Linked DNA regions of Homo sapiens. The protein of the gene in region 2 interacts with the protein of the main gene of each other region in a biochemical or structural test. Each region holds a gene or a part of one and is shown on either strand. Other genes may lie near its edges. The genes, in order: TNKS2 and DIDO1.

Region 1 (7,808 bases), on a different chromosome or scaffold from region 2:
CCTCTGCCTCCCGGGTTCAAGCGATTCTCCTGCCTCAGCCTCCTGAGTAGCTGGGATTACAGGTGCCCGCCACCACGCCCAGCTAATTTTTTGTATTTTTAGTAGGGAAGAGTTTCACTATATTGGCCAGGCTGGTCTTGAACTCCTGACCTCAGGTGATCCACCCGCCTCAGCCTCCCAAAGTGCTGGGATTACAGGCATGAGCCACCGTGCCTGGCTCCCTTCTACAAATTTCTAAAATCTATGCTAAAACTTGAATTTTCATATGTTCTTTTTTTTTTTTTTTTTGAGACCGAGTCTTGCTCTGTTGCCGAGGCTGGAGTGCAGTGGTGTGATCTTGGCTCACTGCAACCTCTGCTTCCCGGGTTCAAGCAATTCTTTGCCTCAGCCTCCCGAGTAGGTGGGATTATAGGTGCCTGCCACCATGCCTGGCTAATTTCTTTGTATTTTTAGTAGAGACGGGGGTTTCACCATCTTGGCCAGGCTGGTCTTGAACTCCTGACCTCAAGTGATCCACCCACCTCGGCCTCCCAAAGTGCTGGGATTACAGGCGTGAGCCACTGCACCCGGCCATATGTTCTTATTCTAATTCCATAACTACAATGAAAGTCCCTTAGAGTGCAAATCTACAGTAACATTATTTTCTGAACAACAACAAAAATCAGTAAATGTATTCTGACAGAGTACTTTAAACTGAGACTGCTTAGAAAAGCCCAGATATGGCTGGCATATTCATATACCTTCCCATAGCAGCTAGAAAAGTGTCAGGCTTGAGAGAGAACTGAATAGACAGTGCTCAAGGATAACTTACTTCAAGAACTGAATAAGCTAAACTTTCCATTCAAGAAAGCTACTTTACCATTACTACTCGAGTCAACTGTGTGCGAATAAACTAAATGGAAGTTTCAAGGTCAAGCCAAATTAGAAGGCTGACTGATGTCATTTCTTAAAAAACATTCTCCCCCAATAGCTTACATGGTTCAGCTCATTTCAAGTATGTTCCAAATTTTCCTTGAGTTTCCATAAAACACTAATCCAAACAATATGATTTATCTACTCACCTGTTCTCTCTCAAATATATCCATTAGGTGCTCAAGTCCAAGATTCCTTACGAATTGAGTTATGCTAAAATCTACTCCTGGAACTGGGAAATAAAAAAATCCAAAACAAATGGAATTTCACATCAGAATAATGTATTTCATCACTATAACAGTAAAGTCTTGTAATGTTACTATATATGAAGAAAATAATATTAATAGCCACTTAGGATATAATACTGAACAAGAGAAAGCTACAAAATTTCAACATTAGAAAAAAGCTAATCAATGGGGCAGTCTCAGTACTCTCATTTTTATTTTAAACTTTGTTTTTAATTGCATCTATATTTTTAAAACCAGTTTTCCTATCTTTCAGGATGTAAGCTACTTCACAAAAAAGTTTATGAAAACAAGCTCCACACTGTTGCATAAGGTGGGATGAATTTTAACAGAAAAGGTTTACATCTAAAGAGCAGATTAAGGGCGGGGGGCGGTGGCTCACGCCTATAATCCCAGCACTTTGGGAGGCCGAGGCGGGTGGATCACCTGAGGTCAGGAGTTCAAGACCAGTCTGGCCAAAATGGTGAAATCCCATCTCTACTAAAACTACAAAAATTAGCCGGGCATGGTGGTGGGTGCCTGCAATTTCAGCTACTCGGGAGGCTGAGGCAGGAGCATTGCTTAAACCCTTGAGGCAGAGGTTGCAGTGAGCCGAGATCGCGCCACTGCACTCCAGTCTGGGCGACAAAAGCAGAACTCCATCTCAAAAATAAATAAATAAATAGTAGGTTAGTAGCACAAGACTCTTCAACTGTCAACTTGGAAGGAAGAAAGTAATACAAGGTTAAACCTTTTTAAGGCTATGTTAACTAATTTTATACTAATACCTTGTATTTAAGGTTAAAAATGACTTTTTAGCATCCCAAATGACAAATACGGGGCTACAATACCAGTTAGAAAGTTATTTTTGTAGAACGTCTCACCCTCCTTTTTCTCCAAACTGGAAGCACCCTCTGTTCCACTTGAACTAACTACTGAAGACAGTTCTGAAAAACTCCCAGATAAGTTGTCAAGACTGCTGGCTGCAGAAAGGCTTGATGGGCTAGATGGACCTGAAGAGAGAGCATCTGCAGTGGCTCCTGGGCTTCTCACACCATTGAGCACTTGAGGCTTGTAACAAGAGGGCAGAGCAGATGGGGGCATGGCTGCTGTCAGAAGAGCGCTGACATCATCCGCCTAGGGTACGTGTCAGAGACAACATCTGCCATAAGCAAGTTTTAAAATGCTATTATACCTAATAAAATATATTTAAAAATATGAGAAAACCCAGCAATTTGTGCCAGTACTATCACAATGGAGGATTATTCATTTTAAAAAGTGAAGCAAACAGGTTAATACAGGTCAAACATCCCAAATCTGAAAATTTTAAAATGTTGACGTGAAGCTCAAAGGAAATGTTTATTGGAGCATTTTGGATTTCAGATTTGGGGATCGGGGATGCTCAACAGTAAGTATAATGCTTGAGTATAATATTTCAAAATCTGAAAAAAATATCCAAAAGCCGAAAACACATCTGGTTCTAAGCATTTCCGATAAGGGATATTCAACCTGTATCCAGCTAAACTGTTATTAAAATATAAGACATAACTGAGAACATCTCTTCCAAAACACATATTGTCAAAATATAATTTAAATATGGCAAAGCATGAACAAAACCCTAATTCTGATACTGTGACTGAGAAGCACAACGAATTACAGAAATATCAATTTTAAAAGGTAAGAGATTTTAGTCCTATTGTAGTTACTCTGAAAGAAGTAATTCAACCTACACAGAACTTTAGCAAACTGAATTGTTTGTATTTCCTGGAAAATATTCAGCAATGTATTTGTTCCTTAAAACTGAAAGTTTTTTGGAGAGGAGGTGGGTAGAAAAGATAATCATTTTAATCAAATCTGCTAGAATGGGGCCAGGTGCAGTGGCTTATGCCTGTAATCCCAGCACTTTGGGAGGCCGAGGTGGGTCGATCACTTGAGGTCAGCCTGGCCAACATGGTGAAACCCCATTTCTACTGAAAATACAAAAATTATTAGCTGGGTGTGGTGGCGCATGCCTGTAATTCCAGCTACTCGGGAGGCTGAGGCAGCAGAATCATTTGAACCTGGGAGGCGGAGGTTGCAGTGAGCCCAGATTGTGCCACTGCACTACAGTCTGGGTGACAGAGTGAGACTTCCATCTCAAAAAAATAATAATAAATAAAAATTAAAAAAAATCTGCTAGAATGGAAAAAAGTCCTCACATTTATTGGTACATTAATTTGTTTAATTTGTAATATGTACTCTTCTTTCACAACGTTCAACTAATGTTCAGCAAGGAATAAATTAGTACTTGTTTCATAGTCATTTGTTCTGACTATTCCAGTCATCACCTTTCTCTTCCCCCAGTCTATGCATTCCCATTGCACTCACAATTTGTAAATGACATTTGTTTATAATAATAGTACCATTTATTGAGTGCTTTTTATGTACCTGATACCATGCCAAAGACTTTAAGTAAATTACCCCATTTAATTCTCATACTAACCAGATATATTTTACCTCTATCTATAGATGAGGTAACTAAGGTTTAGAGGTTAGGCAGTTCATAAGATTGTACAACTTAAATCGTGCAGCTGGAATTCTAGGCCCAGTCTGTCTGACTCTAAAGCCCCTGTATGTTCTCTACAGCATTTTGCTTCATTGTAACTTAATTGTATCTGGTCAACTAACATATGGGTGGAATGAATTCCAAATGTTCACTTTTAAGGTAACTTGGAACTAGAAAGATATTTCCCTGAAGAGATAATGTTGTAAATATGGCTGGGTTGTTAGCTGACTGAGAAAAACCTACTTAAGCACCAATGCAGCTGAACTACCTCAGTTTCTTATTGTAATGTGGAACAATGTAATCTTTCTCAGTAGAAAGCAGTCTGCAGAAAAGATTCCCCTTCCTTCTCATCTCAAAAAGAATTCCTTCCTCCTTTCTTTCCACTGCTCTAGTCAATGTCCTCAGTGGTAGAGGCAAGAGAGGCATCTGCTTCAGTGCCCAAAGCAGAGGTGGAAGGTTCAGTGGAAGCTCCTACACCTGCTCCATGCTCTGGAGAGAGGGGAAGGAAAACAGGACCTCCACAGGAAAGTGGATAATAGACTTGTTTCATGAACAGTTAAGGTAGGGTGAGCAACAAGAACTCTGGGATGAGGCAGTGTGGGAGGAAAAGGAATCTCTACTGGCAGCAGGGTTTGTGGCTGCACCTTGGGGGGCAATGTTCCCAGTTGGGGCCGTGTGTAAGACCCATGGTCTGTACCATCTGCGCTGTATGCACTATAAGTAACAGCATTTTCTGAGGGCCTGGGTCTGTTTAGTTTCCTAACTAACGTAAGCAGTTATATCATGTACTTCTTTTTCCTATTTCCAAAATACTCAGTATATAATAACTGATTGATAATTCTATTCTACAGAAGGATAATTATATTACTTTATAATTCTATTATATTTTAATACTAAAGAACTCTTACATTAAAATCAGGCTAAAACCCAGATTTTGCCATTCACATTGACTATAAAGACATTTTATAATAACATCAAGTGAATTTTAACAAGTCAGAAAAGCACTGAGATTTTTCAAAAAGCCCATCACTTACTGAAACTAAATCTAAAGGTGTTTGTCCTTCCTGATTTTTAAGAGTCGGGTCAGCTCCATGGGCTAGCAACAAAGCACAAAGCTGTGTTCGTCCCTTTTGGGCTGCTTCGTGCAAAGGTGTGAAAGCCCATTTGTCCGTGGCATTGACACATGCATTATACTTTATTAGTAGAGCTGCTACATCTACATGCTGTAAAAGAAAATACCCGTTACAGTCTGAAATATTATTTTGTCACACTTTACTTTCTTAAAATGAAACTAGTTACGTACCTACTTCCACATTTTCAAACTTATTCTGGAAATGAAAAGAAAAACTCTTTCTCCCCAACATCACAACTTATGAGTAGCTGATTAAAAATTACAGTGGACATTTCAATAACTTGAGAAACTATCTAGAAAAGAGTTAAGAATTCTATTTAGCAGGAAACTAGACTAATATGACTTCAATAATTTCTAATTTATTCAAATGTTATAACTACTAAATGTCAATTTATAAAGCAGCAATCTTCCTCAATTATTCAAACTATACCATTGAAGATGGTCAATTTTGAATGTCACATTGGACTATGATAAGTCAGGAACAATGCATCTGAATCTGTACAGATTCCATCTACCCCGTTGGTGCCCCAGTGGATTTTCTGGGTACCAACAAATAAACACAATCACCAACATCTCACTGAAAATAAGAGACAGGTGTTAAGGCAGATAATAAAACAAACAACAATACACCGCATATCACACAGCAAGCTTAGAACAGATTCAGAACCGAAATTTGGAAGTTATTTAACTTCTTTAGCTCTGCCACTTACTTCTCTGTAAAATGAGAACATCAAACTACATTCCATTTGAGCTGCAATACTGACTTTCACTTTAAAATTCCACAAATTTTTAAAGGTAACACGGAAGAACTTACCCCGTAAGATGCTGCATTATGTAAAGGAATAAGTCCTCCTTTGTCTTGGGCATTCACATCAGCTCCGTGTTGTAACAAATACTCTGCAACTTCTAAATTATTATAACCAGCTAATTTAGAAAAGAAGTAAAATTACTTTACTTGTTTTTTCTTTTTTAGTCCTATGTCATAATACTTCCACTTGTTAACATAAAAAAGTCATTACATGTATACATATATATATGTATTTATAAGGCATAGACATTACTGAAAACATAAAAAAAGAGATTTTGTATAAATCTGAAATAGCTCATTGGACTCTATTAACAATTTACCTTCTGGAAAACATTTCCCCCTTGCCTCAAGTTGGAAGCTTTTTGTGTTATCAATTAGCTTTGTAGATTCCCAAAATTATATTGACTGATTTGCTTGTATCTTTCCTATGAAAACCTTCCTACCAAAGTCTCTGCCTTCATGGGTGTTACATACCACTTCTTGAACTCAGGTACATGGGTCTCAGAGGCTGCAAGTCAAAGGTCTGCAATCACATACAAGTCAAACCAGAGTGGGCCTCAGAGTCCTCTTCCCCAGAAGGCCACAAGAGCATGCTTTTTTGCTAGAGAGAACTCAGAGGTACACATCTCTGCAAGTCTAGTAGAGGAACTTAGGTGCTGTTAAAGCCATGAAATAAAACTTATTTCTATTATAGTTTTTATCCTTTTGCTAAAGGATTTAAAGCAAAAGAATTTAAAAAGATCAAGTAAAGAAGAATACAATTATAAAACTACCATAAAATATTACATTAATCTAAAAGTCTTTCTAGGTCTCAAGGTATGGTATTTAACGCTGCAGAAGTGGACAGAAATATTTTATGCATACAAATTATTTGTGACTTACAAAGACAACTTGGACACAGTAATGTTAAGTGTTCTAGATAGGCTACAAGAAAGATATAAAAGCTAACATAAATATGCACAGCACAACTTCCAATCAAAGGTCAAGTCATATTTTGTCTTGCATGGACTAGAAACTCCTGATAGCCAGTGGAAGTAAAGCTTTTTCTCACCATGTTAGCATTTGTGGCTTATCACTTCCAAAATACTTGAAAGACACATAGAGTAATTGGTTTCTTTGGACAGTGAGGTCTCAACTTACATGGAGTGAGAATTTAAAGGTAAAAATCATGTATAACACCAAGTTATAATACAAGACTGAAATGAACATCATACATTTCCATCTCCCACATTACACGAAATGGCAGAAATTTTGCATTATTTTTTCTTGCTTTTTATACCATGTTTAAATCATGTATATTTAGACAAACTTGTATGAGTCCGCTGTGTCTATGATGGAACTCCACTGAGGTATTAGCTATAGCTCAGTGATTTTAATGATTTCCTAACATCTGTAATGCAGCTGAAAAAGCTGTACTGAAACCACAATATATTGTATATTTGCACTGAAAACAAAGGTACACTGTGCCAGTTTTATGAGTGAAACCTTAAAACAAATGTCACGAAATGAATTGTACCCTGCAAAATTCTTATGTTGAAGCCCTAACCCCAGTACCTTAGAATATGACTCTATTTGGAGACAGAGCCTTTAAAGAGCTAAAAAAGTTAAAATGAGCCCATTAGGGTGGGCTCTAATCTAATTTGACTGGTTTCCTTAAAAGTAGAGACTAGGACATATAGAAAGAGACACCATGTTCCAATGGAGGACACACTGAGAAGGTAGACAGCTGCAAGCCAAGAGGGGGTTTCAGAAGAAACCAACTCTGCCAACACCTTGAACTTGGACTCCTAGCCTCCAGAACTGTGAGAAAACAAATTTCTGTTGTTTAAGCCACCTGGTCTTTGGTATTTTGTTATGAGAACTCTCACAAACCAAAACAACAGATAACTTTGGTGAGAGGCTTATGTAACTTCTGAGAGTTTTGAGATTTTTTTTTTTTCCTGCTTGTGCTTAGCAGCTACCATCAGGAAAAATAGAAAGCTTTAGCTTCCTATAAGGAAGGCTGGCTCAAGTAGGCATATTTTTCAAAACTTGTTTACCAAAGGTGATACCAATAAAATGATTACCTGGAATAATGATTCCCAAAGCACATGGGGACTGGCAGAGCCTACTTCAATTGTTCTTACTGAATGTAACATACTAGTAATAAAGTGAACTCGAACTCAGCTAATAGCTTCAAGTACGGTC
Region 2 (7,819 bases):
CATCCCTTGTTGTTTTTCTAGTTAAAAGTCATAGCACAGGTTTCTGGTAACATACAAATGATAAGACACTGTCCATAATTCTAATTACAACAATTCAGTTTGTATAGTAATTTGGTACAGCATTAAAGGGGGTGATGCCCTCCTCCCATCTCATTTCCCTCCCTTTTTCCTATTTCACATTTATTCTTTTGTCTAAAAGACAGAAAATTGGTATGATTCTCATATGCCGCATAGAACGTGTAGCTCCATCACATCCCACAGCTTTCTAGAGGTCTTTGGGGTTGGAACACAAAGTTTAACTTCTGTTTCTGTTTTTCCTTGAATTCTTTTGTTTCCTGGCCCTTTTCCATCTTGCCGGTTCCCCTTATGTTACCCACTATCGTCCATGCTCTCCCTCTGTGTTGGTTGTCTCAAAACAGCATTCAGCGGAATTCATTGAGTGGGTGAATTCTGTGAAGTTGCCTTTTCTGGCAGTGCTGTTACTCAGTGATGCACAAACGTAGCATTTGCCCTTTGGTAGACAAAGATCTGTGTTTTTTTTTTTTTTGTTTGTTTGTTTCTTTGAGACGGAGTCTCGCTGTCACCCAGGCTGGAGTGCAGCGGGTTCAAGCGATTCTCCTACCTTAGCCTCCCGAGTAGCTGGGATTACAGGCGCCTGCCACCACGCCCGGCTAATTTTTGTATTTTTAGTAGAGATGGGGTTTCACCATGTTGGTCAGGCTGGTCTTGAACTCCTAACCTCAGGACCTCAGGCGATCCACCCACCTCGGCCTACCTAAGTGCTGGGAACAGGCTTGAACCACCGCGCCTGGCAGATCTGGTTAGTATTCTTCAAAGGAGCCAAAGGCAGTGCTTTCGTGTTTGCTTTGAGGGGAAGTAGTGGACGATTTGATTGTGACACCTTTTAGCATTGGTGAGTTGATTTATCTAAAATTAACTGTTAAAGTTAGCTGGCCTTATACAACGTAAAAGTAAAGAAAATTCATCAGTTTCTCAAAAAAAAAAAACAAAACAGTGGCTGAAGTTTTTGTTAGCAATAAGAAAACAGTAGGCATATATATATATATATACACTTTTTCTTTTTTCTGGGAATCCACGTTCTCCTCCTGGGTAAAGGAGAGGGTTGTATTTTGTGATTCCTTTTTCCTGCCCCAAGTGGCTGGCGATACAGCCCCCGGCGCGCCGGGCACTGAGGCCCTGGAGCACAGCGTGGGGGGCCTGGCACAGACACGACTCACGACCGGGCCGATCTCCGGCCAGAAAGAACTATGTTCCGGCCGCCCGGGTCGCGGGCCCGCGGTGCATCCCTGCAGGCCTCCATCCTGCCTCGGCAGAGGTCTGCAAGAATCCTGTGGGTGTCCCCCGGAGCGGGCAGAGGAGGAGCCCAGCGCCGAGGCCCAGGCGCGCCCCGCCCTCGCCCCTCCCCGTGCCCCTCCCCCGCTGCTCCCCTCCCAAAGGCCGAGACCTGGACGCTGCCCGGTGGCCTCGGCGGGGGCCCTGTCCTTGGCCGCTGCCTCTCTGAATCCCAGGTGAGAAGAATAAAACGTCCTGACGCTGTCCGGCTTCCGGTTCTTGGAGAGGACGGGCCGTCTCTGCCGAGAGAACTGTGCGGAATCAGGAAGCGCTGGTGCTCCTTCGCTTTCACGGGACTAAGCGAAATCCGGCTTTAAACGAAGTAAAGCCGGCTGCCTCCTGGAGTATTTTTGTCATAGTATTTTTATTTTGGGTCAGGGTATTCTGCTGCGGACCCTGAGTCTTAGGAAGGAGGCTTATAACAGCGGAAAGCCATTTTTTTTTAAGAATTGCTGAGTTTTCCGGATTGTACTTTCAAAGACTTTCCCTGAAACTTTGCGTGGCATGGGGGTTGCAGAAACTGGTGTCTACACATTACAAAAGTGTACTGTTTACACCTATTTGTGATGCACCCATCGTGTTTTTCTCCATGGACCACCTATTAAGCTTCCTGCTGGAGCGCTCTTGGCCCCCTTCCTGCTTTCTGGGCCACATCCTGTTGTAAATCGGTGCTACTTGTGGGGTTTTGTTTGTGAATTGGGGATATTTAAGGAACAATTTATTGAAACAACTGAAGAGTTTGTTTCCTCCTTTGGGTTTTACTTTTAAAATAAATTCGGTTAGGAAAAAGTATTCTTTTGCTAGTGGAGTTCAAATTCAAATACCCAGACTGTAGATTCTCCAAATGCCTTTCTCACCAGGGAGGGCAGCTCCCAGGAATAGTGACGGCAGGTAAGCTGGGATAAAGCTGACTTCGTCACCTTGTAGGTGGGGAAGGCCAGAGTGGATAGTCTGGCCAGGCCTCCACAGCCGAGCCAGCTTCTGCTGGGGGGCGGGGGAGATGAGAACGAGAGGCAGGTTCCAGTATCCTCTGGACTTGCAGGAAGGAAGGCATTCTGCGTATCGCTGAGCACTGCGGTGAGCTGAGTGAGGGTTCCCTTTCCTCATGTTTTCCTGCCTTTTTCTTCCTCTTGGTTCTCTTGTCCCTGAGCCGCCTTGTCCACTCTTTCTATTCCCTTAGTGCCTTTCCATCTATCTCTCCTGAGTGCCCAGCGTGAAACTGTACCCAAGAGTTAAAATCTCTTAAAAATCTCACCGTCTTGCAGAAACAAATTGTGGCTGGTTTAAAGATCCTCAGCTAAAGAGACTGGGCTGAGGTTCCCCCATACCAGTTGGATTTAGAGAGAGCCTCTTGTAGGGAGGCCTCATGTGGTCTTCACCTGGGCCTCAGCATGTGAGCCCTCCTTTAACAGAGAGCTTGCCCAAGATCTCACTGCTTGTTAAAGGTGGTCTCAACCCCGTCTGTCTTCTAAGCTTCCCACTACCCCATGTCTGAGAGCAAAAAGCCCTCTTTGCAACCTGAGATCACACTCAAGATGGAAGACTGTCAAGCCCATCCCTGCCAGATTCTATTAATGTGGTCCTAATGGGCCACACCAGCAAAAACAAGCTGCGTTGTATTCCTTTGAAGAAAACTAAGTCTGCCTCAGAAACTAGCAGACCCTGTAATCTTCAGCGGTATTATTAAAAAGCACACCTGCCTCAAAGCCCCTGGTTCATCCATGGAAGCATCGCAGAAGCCTCTGTATTAGGGGCAGCTTTACGGCACTCTGGGCCCCTTTTACTCTTGGCCAGGGCCAACGCCAAAGGCTAGATGGTCCATGCTTCCAGGTAGCGTATCACTGTTCACAGAAGCAGAAACAAGTAATGGGGCCACCTCCACCCCCCCCAGGTCCCTGCCCTCGGAGCAAGTGGCCAGTGCCCATGGTGCCTCGAGGCAACAGCTGCCCCTCCTGCCCCCTCCCAGTCTCTTTCCTGCAGTATCTGGGGACAGACAGGTGATAGAGTGTCACTCTAGTTACTATTGAGCGAACTGAAGAAAATCCACATGGAAGGTTGACATCTACCATACCTCACTTTCCCCTCTCTTGATAGTAAGTGTCTAATCTTTCCCTCCAACCCCTGTGGGCAAACATGTCCATGCGTTCTTTGAGTTCTAGCTACTGGTCAGTAGTTCTGAGTGTAGGATTGACATGGTGGGAGGAGGCAGAGCTTTGGGACCACACCGCCAAGGTCCCTGGGGCCTAGAGGTCCAGCGTGCCCGCCTCCCTTCCTCGCTGTGCTCCTTTCTCTCCCCCCCACCCCCACGCTCCTGGTTTCTGGAGCCGAGCTTGGGGTGGGGAGGCAGCAGGTAGGGTCTTCAAGTTGGAGAGAAACCCCGCCCACACCTGGACCTCGCCCCTCGCTGCCATTCCCAGCCGAGGCCGTCAGGGGCCTGCGTTTTGAGAAACACAATCTGGAAGAGAAAACCTGGGCCTTTTCTTCTTTTATCCCCTGTCCCCGCCCCCCTACACCTCTTACAAATTTAGCCCAGGAGCTTTCTATCCCCACCGACTTGAAGGGTTTATCGGTCTTAAGAGCGAAATCCTGGCGGAGTGCAGTCCCTCGGGGCTAGCATCCACGTTCCGCCTGCGCCCTGCCCGGGCTGTTCCGAGGGATCCCCGCAAGGGCACTGCCCCAGCTTTCACTCTTGGAGTCGGGGAAATAAGGTGTCCACAAAGGATGCAAGCAAGTCATTGTCAGTGCAGACCCGAAGGGCGCGTCCGGAGTGCAGGTATGAAAGACGGGCGCATGCGCGCAGTCCGGGGCCGGGCTTCGCAGCCCGGGCTCCGCTCTAGCCCCGCAGCGTCTCGGTGGCCGGTCTCGTCCTCCGCCCGCCGCGCGGGGGCGCCGCTCTAGCCCCGCGCCATCTCGGTGGCCGTCCGCCCACTCCGCGGCGTTCGGGGAAATGGCTGCGAGACCCTAGAGGCCTGCGGCCTGCGGTAAGTGGCGTCCCGGGCGCCGGGTAGAAGAGCCGGCCGCCGCTTGGGCCGCCCTCGGGAGCGGGGCGGGGCCGGCATCGGAGCCCGGCTGGCGAGAGCCGCGGATCCCGCACAGGCCGCTCCCGCCGAGAAGATGGCGGCCGCGGAAGGGAAGGAGCGGGCGGGCGGGCGGGCGAGCGGGCGGGGCCGGTCAGAGCCGCCGCGGCCTGGGGCGCGGGCCTCAGACGCCGGCCCTGGTGGGCTGCGTGAGGTCGAGGGGACTGGCGAGCACTCGGTGGTCGCGGCTGGAACGGTTCCGAGGGTGGGAGTCGGGGCGGCCGCTCGCGGGGAAGAGCGCAGGGCTGGCCTGGGCGAGTGCGGCCCGGGGCTCGGGGGCTGCGTAGCTGGCTTGTAAGCGCAGCTGGTTTCCCTAGGCATTCTCGGGGACCTCGGCGCTTCCTCCCGGGCCTTGGGTGCGGTCGGGGTGGCCGGCTTAGCTTCTGGCGTGCCTTCGGGGGATTCCGGCACTGCAGGGGCGGCTGGCGCTGCAGGAAGCGCGAAGAGCCCGGATTCGCTTTTCTGAAGAGTGTGTCCTTACCTCCCCGCGCTGGTTTTCAGTTTTTTTGTGGAATAGTTTGTTGCGTTGGTTTGTACTGGCCGTATTTGTGACACATTTTGCCTTCCAGTGACCCCGGAAGCCGAAAGGGCCCGCTCTTGCGCTCGGCGGGAGGGGTGCTCGTGCTGCCTCCGCTGCGGCGTCCGGGGCTCCTTCTCGCGGTTCTGAGACAGTGGAGGTCAAGGCCGGCTTTTCTGCTCTAAATAAAGGACTTTAATATATAAGTTTAGAGTTTGGGCCACAGGTAGCAGTAGCTTACTGCGTTACCAGTTATTGAAAATACTCTTTAACTTGTGCCTGGGCCTTCGATATCCGTGTCATCTGTCTGCTGATGGAATGAGATTTGAGCCTAGTGTACTCAGGGACTTAGAGGAGGGAAAGGCAGATGGGAACGTCTTTTCGGTATATTCACATAACTTTGCTATATACCCCGTGTTCCATGGTTTCCGTAGGGCCACATATGACTTGGTTGAAATACAGTTCTGAGAAAGGTCCTTAGCAGTGCCTTTTAAGGAGTAAATACAGTCTTTTTTTAAATGAGCATTCATTGCTTACTGTTAGCACGAGGGATACAGCAGTGACCAAGGTGGCCCCTGTCCCAGTCCTGGAGACAAGTTCACTGGGGAACTTGAGAGATTATTCCAGCTCCTTCCTTTAAATCAGGTGTTGCCAACTCGTTTACCTGGAGCCTAGGGCTCTTTAGTGGCCCTTTGGGTTGCTGTTAGTGTATGTGTGTCTGTGACTATTTCACTATTTTAAATACGGCATAGACATCTCAGAAGTGTCACCCAGGAAGACAGACACAGCCCTGTTGTGAAACTCCCTGCTTAATGCACACTTGTTTTCCTACTTGCTGTGTACATGGGGAGGAGATGTCTGTTCTTGTAGACTTGTTTCAGCAAGTTTCATAAGATACCTCTTGTTTTGGAAAAGCGCGTATCTTGAATTTTTTCAGGCTTTCCACCAGAGGCTGTCCCTTATTAGTAGTTGATTGAATTCAGACTATGTCAAGCAGAGCTCATTGTGCTGTGGTGAGAAGACAGGGCACAAATAAGATAATTTGTGATTGACTGCCCAGCCGTACCCATGGTTACCAGACAGCCCAGCCCATGTTGCATGTGCATATGTGAGCCTCGCAAAGGCTTGTCTAGGACGTGCGGATCATCGGTTGGGCCTTGGAGGGTGCTGGGGTTTCTTCATGTAAGGAGGAAATGATTGGAATGGGCATTGGCTCCCGTTTTGTTCGCGGTGAAGTTGGCAGGTTCTGCTGTTGATACTGTGAGTTTTTCTACAGCCTTAGGGTCATAATTCCCTTAAGGTCAGTTCTGTGGAGCCCAGTAGGGTGCTTCTCTTCAGTGTTTATTTTTAAGCTGTGCCACGTCTTCATTGTTTGGAATCTCTGTAAACAAGACACGTTTTTCCTTTTTATATGCCTGTCCCATAATACCAAGTGGCTTATTTGGCTCTTGAAGAGCTAAGATTGAAAGTGTTTAACAGGTGACTCCCTACTATCTGTGGGTCCCTGCACTGTGCCCTTGCCTGAGAGGTCTCATCTCTCTGGCAGGCTCAGAAGACCACTAGAAAATTCTCTCTAAACAGAGTCTCTCACTTACATTTCTTATTTAAATGACGGGGTCCCTTACAGTGGATACTAAGATCAGCCTTTTTATGACTACTATCAAATGATGTGTGTTAATTGCATTACAAAAGTTCTATAATTAACAGTTAATGGAAATGTACTAATTGGGAAAGAGGAGGTCAAAGAACAAAGTCCAGTTTGCTCATTTCATGTACGTGTACACAGTCATCTGTGAGACAGTCTGTGTTGTCTAGGCCTCATTTTATTTTTTGAGTAGTAATTTTGAGGTTAAGTTGTTATATGAAGTTGAATAGGTAATTGTACATATTTTAATAAGAATTCTGTAACCATGTCCATAAAACTTAATAGGCGGTTGTAATCGTGTGTAAGTTGTAAAGGAGGCATTTCTCTCCTTGGGTATCAAATTTTGATGCCGTGGTTTTGTTTTGCGTATGCTGATATAGACATTTAAGTGGTACTTAATATACCTTTATAATAAGGTAAATCAACTTTTTTTCCAAAATGAAGATACCTTAATGTGTTTGATTACAAAAGTAATACACATACAGGAAACTTAAACATTATGTAAAAATAGAAAGTAAAGACACTAGAAAGGGTGCTGTCCAGAAAAGCTCCACGTTACAGCTGTTTTGCACTAGTGAACGGGATGCGTTGGAGGCTGTGGCCACTGCCCTGGCCGGCTTGTCTGCGGCTCTCACTCAGGTGCCAGGGAGTTTTTCTCACGGCTGTGCATGTGATGATTCATCACCCTTAAAGAATTCCCGGCCGGGCATGGTGGGTCGTGCCTGGAATCCCAGCACTTTGGGAGGCCAAGATGGGTGGATCACTTGTCAGGAGTTCAAGACCAGCCTGGCCAATATGGTGAAACCCCATCTCTAACTAAAAATACAAAAATTAGCTGGGTGTGGTGGTACGTGCCTGTAATCCCAGCTACTTGGGAGGCCGAGGTGGGAGAATCGCTTGAACCTGGGAGGTCGAGGTTGCAGTGAGCCGAGACCGCACCACTGCACTCCAGCCTGGGCGACAGTGAGACTCTGTCTCAAAAAAAAAATAATAATAATTAGGCCAAGCATGCTGATGTGCTCCTGTAGTCCCAGCACTTTGGGAGGCTGAGGCCAGAGGCCAGAGGACCCCTTGAAGCCAGGAGTTCCAGGCTGTAGTGAGCCGTGGTTCTGCTACTGCTCTCCAGCCTGGGTGACAGAGCAAGACTCTGTCCACCCCCCACCCCCAACAAAAAGAATTTCACTATATAGATGTTTCTTGATTTTTCAAACTGGTCTGTTAGTTTGT

Evidence for each region.
Region 1: the proteins of DIDO1 (region 2) and TNKS2 interact in a biophysical measurement, tested with the Homo sapiens proteins (one study listed by IntAct).

What each region holds. Positions count from the first base shown.
Region 1 is NC_000010.11:91,842,848-91,850,655, reverse strand, and holds part of TNKS2 (poly [ADP-ribose] polymerase tankyrase-2), read right to left. Parts: intron 5,738-7,808; coding exon 5,628-5,737; intron 4,905-5,627; coding exon 4,716-4,904; intron 2,274-4,715; coding exon 2,021-2,273; intron 1,145-2,020; coding exon 1,062-1,144; intron 1-1,061. UniProt on the Homo sapiens protein: Poly-ADP-ribosyltransferase involved in various processes such as Wnt signaling pathway, telomere length and vesicle trafficking.
Region 2 is NC_000020.11:62,922,947-62,930,765, reverse strand, and holds the start of DIDO1 (death-inducer obliterator 1), read left to right. Parts: upstream 1-4,260; 5' UTR 4,261-4,327; exon of another isoform or gene 4,328-4,334; intron 4,335-7,819. UniProt on the Homo sapiens protein: Putative transcription factor, weakly pro-apoptotic when overexpressed. Tumor suppressor. Required for early embryonic stem cell development.